Homo sapiens: one gene and its partner. The protein of the gene in region 2 interacts with the protein of the main gene of each other region in a pairwise test. Each region holds a gene or a part of one and is shown on either strand. Other genes may lie near its edges.

Evidence for each region. The genes of interacting proteins can lie anywhere in the genome.
Region 1: the proteins of CDIP1 (region 2) and OTUB2 interact in binary tests that used the Homo sapiens proteins (3 or more experiments, as listed by UniProt).

Annotation. Positions count from the first base shown.
Region 1 is NC_000014.9:94,024,446-94,028,045, forward strand, and holds the start of OTUB2 (ubiquitin thioesterase OTUB2), read left to right. Parts: upstream 1-1,894; 5' UTR 1,895-2,092; coding exon 2,093-2,095; intron 2,096-3,600. UniProt on the Homo sapiens protein: Hydrolase that can remove conjugated ubiquitin from proteins in vitro and may therefore play an important regulatory role at the level of protein turnover by preventing degradation.
Region 2 is NC_000016.10:4,537,208-4,541,149, forward strand, and holds the start of CDIP1 (cell death-inducing p53-target protein 1), read right to left. Parts: upstream 1,567-3,942; 5' UTR 1,495-1,566; exon of another isoform or gene 1,394-1,494; intron 1,223-1,393; exon of another isoform or gene 1,118-1,222; intron 1-1,117. UniProt on the Homo sapiens protein: Acts as an important p53/TP53-apoptotic effector. Regulates TNF-alpha-mediated apoptosis in a p53/TP53-dependent manner.

The DNA of each region.
Region 1 (3,600 bases), on a different chromosome or scaffold from region 2:
CCTTCTGCAACTTTTTTCCTTCTAACCAGGCTTTAGAGAGCTTACGAGGAATCTTGATTAGTTAGACTAAGGAAATTACATTTTCCCTGCGAATTGAGCTAAATTTGAGGAAATATTCTGTTACGCATGCACTGAGATTCTTGTAAGATTGTGTGTGTGTGTGTGTGTTTAAAGCCTTCATTACTACAAATATTAAAACAAAACAAAACAAAACATTTTTAACCACCCAGATTGTCCAACCCTCTCACTGAGTGAGGAACCAGAAGACCAGAGAGGGCCTGGGCATTGCCTGGGGTCACACAGCAGTGAGTGGCAGAGCCCAAGGGCCCAGAATTCCTCATGGACTCCAGCCCAGTGCTCCTTCCACACTCCCATGCTGGCTTGGTTTGGAACTGCTGGGGCCTGAAGAAGGGCAGAGAGTGAGCCCAGGACTCGGGGCTTAGTGCAGCCAAACTTGAGGGCTCATCAAAGCCTTGGCTGAAAAGACTCTTCACCCATACCCCTCACTCAGACACCATGGAACCTGGCTCAGTCATTCCTCCACAGAGGGAAGCTAACACGCCTTGGAATGAGCACTGGTTGGGGAGTCAGGAGTCCAGGGATCCAGCCCAGCCAGGCCACTTCTTAGCTCAGCAGCACTGGGCTGCTCCTGTCACCTCTCTGGCTTCCTTGGCGGTTAAAAAAAAAAAAAGAGCGAGAAACCCCCCGAAAACAAATGGGGGTCAGGGGCGGAGGCAGGTAACACAGCCCCTGTAGTCACATGCAGAGTGAATTCGAAACCAGCTCTGGAGTCACACTGCCTGGGACTGAATCCCACTTCAGTGCTATGTGACTAAGGCAAGGAACGTAAACTCTCTGTACATGTTTCCTCATCTGTGAAACAGGGATAATAATAACAGGACCTACCCCCTTAAACCAGTTGTGAGGAAATTAAGTAAGATAATTCTGTATATGTGGAGAGTTCAGGATAGCGCCTGATACATAGTAGGTGTTCTGCATAACTGTGTAAATAACTGTAAAAAATTACCTGCTATTGTTACTGCTCCTTGAGCCTCCATTGACCTCACACTCCCTGCCCAGGACATGATACATGCTTGGAAGACTCAGATGTCTGTATGCCCAGAGCCTAGCCCAGTACCTGGGACTTACGTAGTAAGAGTGGGGCGCGGGGGGCGGGGGCGGGGGGCAGCAGCAGGAAGGGGAATTGCTCAATACACGCTCCTGGAAATATTAATTTTTTGAAGTGGATGCATGCAATGCACTGAGCCCCCCTCCCCTACAAACTCTCCCTCCCACACCCAAGCAGCTCCTCCAGGACTCAAGGGCTGGTGAATGAATCTTTGAATGATAAATATTCCTATTTTGATGTCCATTAATAATGAGCTTGTAGGCAAGATGAGTCATCTAGACCTGGTTCACGGATATCCCTACAATTCCAGAGCCACAGAGTCAACGATCCTGGACATTCATTCATTCAACAAACATTAACTGGGTGCGTGGCAACCTACTGATTCATGAGTTGGAAGAGGATAAAATATTATATAGAAGCCATACTTAATGTTATTGGACACGTGTTCCCTAAGCGCCTATCCTCTGATCTTGTGCAAACTATACTTATGTGACCTTGTTTATGAATTAATGACGGCCAGCTAATCCTTCAGAAGACTCCAATTTTAGGTTTGCGCAAAAGCCCTTCAGCCTTTACAAACGAGGACCTGTCTTTCTGGGTTGAGCTAACTCCTCTGCTAGTTAAAAGCTTTCCTGTGTCTTTAAAAGGGGGAGGCATCCTATCAAATGGACCCTAACGCATAGGCTGAAGGCACGTGAAGTCCCACCCACTTTCTATGACGTCCCGCGTCCCGGCTTCTGATTGCCCGCCTGAGACGTCAATCGCAGGGCGTGTGTCTTGCTGGGACACAGTGGAGGTCTAACCTTTGGTTTGCGGAGCGGTCGGGTGTATTCTCCGCCGCCCCCACGCCCTCGAGGTCCCCGCCACCGAACCAGCGGCGGAGCCCGCCCGCGCCTCCCGCGGCATTCCCGCACCGGATCGCTCCTCGCTGGGGCGGGACCTGGCCTGGCGGCTCTGGTCACTATGGTCAGTGATCGTGGGGGATCGCGAAGGGGGAGCGGGCAGGGGGCGCGGTGGGCGGGGTCGCTGCCGGAGCGGGTGCACCCGCGGGACGGGGGTCGGACGCGAGGCTCAGCCCCCAGCTCGCCCCCGCCGCTTTCCGACCCCCTGAAATACGGAGTCCGGACGGATACTGAGGGCCAAGTCGCGCCCCCCTGTACCCCGTGGATGTGCAGCTGAGGAGGTCCAGCTCGGCCCCGAGCCCCCGCCCCCAGCGTGTCCGCCCCAGGTGGCCCGGGGCGCCGCCTCGACGGCGCTGGGTGGGCGCCCTCGACGGAAGCAGGGACAGGGAGGCTGCAGCACTACGGGTCGCCTCCTCTTTGTTAAGTAGCCCCCCAGTCAGCAGTCCACGGCCCCACCCACCCGACGGCTCGGCCGTCAAAGACCTCCTGGCCCCTGCCCCAACCCCAAGGGAGGATCTAGGGGTTGCACGGGGCACCAGGTCGTCTGCTCCGTGGGCGACTAGACCGTCTCCATCTTTGGAGTCAGGACCCACCTAGAGAGGATGCCTCAAGTTGTGAGGCGCATGAGTTAGGGGTCGGGGAAAAGAAAATACTCAGGAATCCCTGATGGAGAGCCTTGTCTGCGCAGAACGAGGCCCAGAGACCCTCTGAGCCAGGCTAACCCTGGGCTTGGGCAGGTGGGGAAACTGAGGCCAGACAGGGCAGGGCTGGTACTGATTGTGGTGGACCTGGGGCTTGAACCCAGGCTCTGGACTCTCAGTTCAGTGCTCTTTGTGTTACATCGGCTCACCTTCCAGGTTGCCGTGGGGTCAGGCATCCTGCAGGGGACTGGGTGGCATGGCTGCCTAAGACCCTTCAACCCTGAGCAGGGGGAGCCTGTGGAGTGAGGGCTGGGTGGCTTGAGTCGGGGCCACACAGCCCCAGGTTCAAGTCTCACTTCCACCTGTTGGAAAGCGAAGAGGCTTTGGTTGGTCCGCTCTCCCCCTCAGCACCGTTTTGCACATCTGTGTCATGGGAACCATGTGATATGATTAGCTGGAGCTTTTCCTGTGACAACAGAGTCCTGGAAATGGGTGTGCACAGATGCCTGGTTCTTCAAGCTTAGCCTCCTCTCTCCTATGACTGGGCAGGAAAATGGGTCACCACGGCAGCATGCTGCCGGGCTGGGGCATGGGTCAAAGCCTGGTCATGGCCTGGCACGATCTGGGTGTGGCATAGGCAGCCAGGGCACTCGAGCTGGGACTGTCCTTGCCAAGCCAGCCTGCTGCCTGGGGCATAGCTGGGGGCCTCTGGAGCATCTGGAAGCACCAGCTTCCTGCTTCCACTTGGTGCCCAAGGGTTTACCTGGTTGAGCTGCTCCTGGAAGGCAGCCCAGGTGTTTCTGCATCACCCACCAGGGAGTGGTGGAGCTGGGGTAATGATGGGCTTAGCCACCCGGGAGCTGGAGGCTGGCATGCCCTCTGGCCACCACTCGGCAGCTGAGAGCACAGCAGAGGCGGTAGCTGCTCT
Region 2 (3,942 bases):
TGCTGGTTGGACAAATATGTGATGAAATACAATAAAGTGTTAACTCTACATTCTAGGTGGTGGTCTGTGGGTGTTCACTGTAAAATTCCTTCAACTTTTGTATGTTTCACGTTTTTCGTAACTGAATGTGTAGAGGGGGAGTCTTCTGAGACTGGCAAGTGACTGGGCATAACCTTTCCGATTAAGGGCAGAGGGCAAGGCAGAGCTGGCACGCCTCCCTCCACCCAGTTCTACCTAGATCGGCCCCAAGGGAAGCAGCAAAGAACCCAGGAGAGCAGTAACTTGCCCGGGCACCGCCCCGCCCAGCATCAGGCCCCAGAATACAGAAGAAACTGGCAGAAACACTATGGAACGTCCCTGCCCCCGGGCCCGCCAACCCCCTCACTGGGACAGGTTCTCAGCCCCAGCTGCGCCCGGGAATGATCTGGGGAGCCTACTAAATGCAGATTCCTGGGCAGCGCGACGGAACTACAGCATCCCAACACCTGGGGTGGGCCCCAGGAATCTGCCCGTTTCCCAAGAGCCCCAGGTGGTTCTGACGCAGAGGATCTTGAGCCCACCTTTGGAGGAACTCACAGCCACTCGCCCCACCTCATCTAACACCTGTTGAGAAGCCCCCCAAGGAACTCGCTAAGCCAAGGTCCTCGAAGGCGCGACTCCTAGCCCCAAGCTAGGCCAGGCCGTCGCCATCTCCGCCGGGGATGCGCGGCCGAGCGCCACATCCCGACTCCACACGTCGGCGAGCCGGGCGCGGGTGCAGGACACTGCTGGGCTCCGGGACGGCCAAGGTCACCCGCGGGGCTCGGCAGGGGCTGGCTCGGCCACGGGGCTCCTCCTCGACCCCCTTTCCTTGAGAAAACAACTCCCACCCCTCCCCTCCCCGTCTCGCCCTGCAAGACGGAGATGGCAATTTCCACAACCTTCCCTGACGGAAAAACGTGCGGGCGAGCAGGCTGCCATTCCGGGCGCACAACCCCGCGGCACACAGCGGGGCGCCCGCCCGGGCCCCGCCACCGCAGCGGCTTCGACATCCCCAGGGCCGCGCTAGGTCTCGGCAGCGCCCTGAGGGGAGGACGGGCCCCGCCATGCCGCGCCCCAACCGCCGGCCCCGCTTTACCTCCAGAAGCCCGGTGCCCGAGGCCGGCCGAAAGCGGAGAGGGGCCCGGGTCCGGACAGGCGCCGGCAGAACAAGACCCTCAGCCCCGCGCGGCTTTGCGCGCACAACGAAACCCCCCAACCCACCGCCCACCCCACCGCCCAGAGGCTTCTAGGACTTGTAGTCCGCCCGGTCACCCCCCCCACCACAACCCGCTCTGAGAGGCTGGGGACTACGGTGCCCGGCATGCACCGCCCAGGCGCCGCGGGCGGGGGCGGGGAGGGGGCGCCACGGTCCGAGGTCACGCCCCGACCTGAGGAGAGCTGGCGCCCAGACCCTTCCCCCGGGGAGGAGGGCTCCCGCGCGAAGCCGTCTCCGAATGCGTCCAGTCGACTCACCGTCCCCGCAGCCCTGGGGCAGCGGCCGCAACAGCAGGACCGAACGCCTCGGCAGCTGGCAGTCGCACTTCTGTCACAAGGAGGCGGGTAGACTTTGGACCAGGGCCGAGGCCCGGGACGTCACGGTGGGGGGTGGGGTCTCGGGAGGCACGTGATGCGCCGTGATGACGTCAGTGGGAGCGGAGGCGATTTGGCCTAGAGCTGGGGCTGAGCACGTGGGATGGTCGGGGCCTGTTTGCCCAATGTACACGAGGCTGGAGAATAGGGAAAGAACCGTCCCTGTGAGCGCCTCCTCTTCACTCATGCCAGCAACAGGGCAGGGCATCTTCCTCCAGGGCTGCATTTTTTCTTTTATGCGACTAATATTTATTGAGTTTGGGAGGTGCATTACATAAAACCTTGAACCACACGGTCACTGTCCCTGCGCTTGAAACTGCCTTTGCAAAAATTACAACAGAAAATTATGACAGTGAAAGAGAGCTGACCTAACCCACTCCATCTTGCTTCTAACCTCCAGGTTGTCCTTGTTCATTCCTAGGCATAGGCAGAACTAACTTTGGGAGCAACTTAGTTTATAGTTTAATATTGAAACAAAGATAGTTAACAGCCCTTTCCCAAAACAAACCCCCTTGTTGCCTGAGAACCAGGCTTCCTTTGTAAGAGTAACACGTTAGCTACAAGATTAGACATTATAGTTTAGGGCCCAGCTCAGTGGCTAACGCCTGTAATCCCAGCACTTTGGAAGGCTGACGCAGGTGGATCACTTGAGGTCAGGAGTTTGAGACCAGCCTGGCCAACATGGTGAAACCATGTCTCTATTTAAAAATACAAAAATTAGCCGGGTATGGTGGCACGCACCTGTAATCCCAACTACTAGGGAGGCTGAAGCCCAAAAATTGCTTGAACCCGAGAGATGGAGGTTGCAGTGAGCTGAGATTATGCCTCTGCACTCCAGCCTGAGCAAGAGACTGAGACTCCATCTCAAAAAAAGAAAGAAAGAAAGAAATTACGGTTTAGGAGTCATGCACCCAGAGGCCACAAGATTCTAAACCTCCCCAGTTGATCCTAGGTATAATATCACTATTGTAAAACCTAAGATTGGTACTCTTAGGTGTTTTTCTGACCCTGCAGTCTGATGCACCAGCCAAGGCCACCTAGAGCTGTAATCTGACTCAACCAGTTCTTGCATCCTTCAACACCCTGTGATTTCATCTCCCACCCCACCAATCAGCACTCCCTACTCCTTGGCAGCTTATCTACCAAATTACCCTTTAAAAACTCTAGGCTCTGAATTTCCAGGGAGACTGATTTGAGTAATGAAACTTTGGTCTCCCATTCAGCCAGCTCTGTGTGGATTAAACTCTTTCTCTATTGCAGTTCCCCTGTCTTGATACATTGGCTCTATCTGGGCAGCCAGGAAGAAGAACCCACTGGGTGGCTACTTGCTCAGGTACTTCCTTTGTTACAGACAGTATACAAGGAAACCACAAAATGCCCAGGACTGTGAAGGAGAGGAAGGGACGCCCTAACAGAGTTACGGGGTGGTGCCACTAGACAGGTTGGTTAGAAAAGGCCTCTCAGAGGAGGCGATGCTGAGGCAGGGGCATGAAATTGAAAAGACATTCTATTCTGGAAGGGCATTCCAGAGGGAGGGATTGCCTTGGGTGAGAGAGTCAGAAAGGTGAGGATGTCAGTGGGGCAGGCTGGATCCAAGTCATGTTGAGATTTGTAGGTCATTTTAAGAACTCTGGCCAGGCGTGGTGGCTCATGCCTGTAACCCCAGCACTTTGGGAGGCCGAGGCAGGCAGATCACTTGAGGTCAGGAGTTTGAGACCAGCCTGGCCAACACAGTGAAACCCCGTCTCTACTAAAAATACAAAAATTAGCCCGGCATACACGCCTGTAATCCCAGCTATTCGGGAGGCTGAGGCAGGAGAATTGCTTGAACCTAGGAGGCAGAGGTTGCAGTGAGCCAAGATCACACCACTGCTCTCCAGCCTGGGAGACAGAGCAAAACTCTCTCAAAATAAAATAAAACTCTGGATTCTTCTTTCTTTTTTTTTTGAGATAGGATCTTGATCAGGCACCCAGGCTGGAGTACAGTGGCATGATCATAGCTCACTGTGACAACTCCTAGGCTCAAGCAGTCCTCCTGCCTCAGCCTCCCAAGTAGCTGGGATTACAGGCATAAGCCACCATACCTGTCTGCAGTTTGGATTTTTTTTTTTTTTTAGATGGAGTCTCGCTCTGTCACCAGGCTGGAGTGCAGTGGCTCGATCTCGGCTCACTGCAACCTCCGTCTCCCAGGTTCAAGCAATTCTCCTGCCTCAGCCTCCTGAGGAGCTAGGACTATAGGTACCTGCTACCACGCCTGGCTAATTTTTGTATTTTTAGTAGAGACTGAGTTTCACTATGTTGGTCAGGCTGGTGTCGATCTCCTCACCTCGT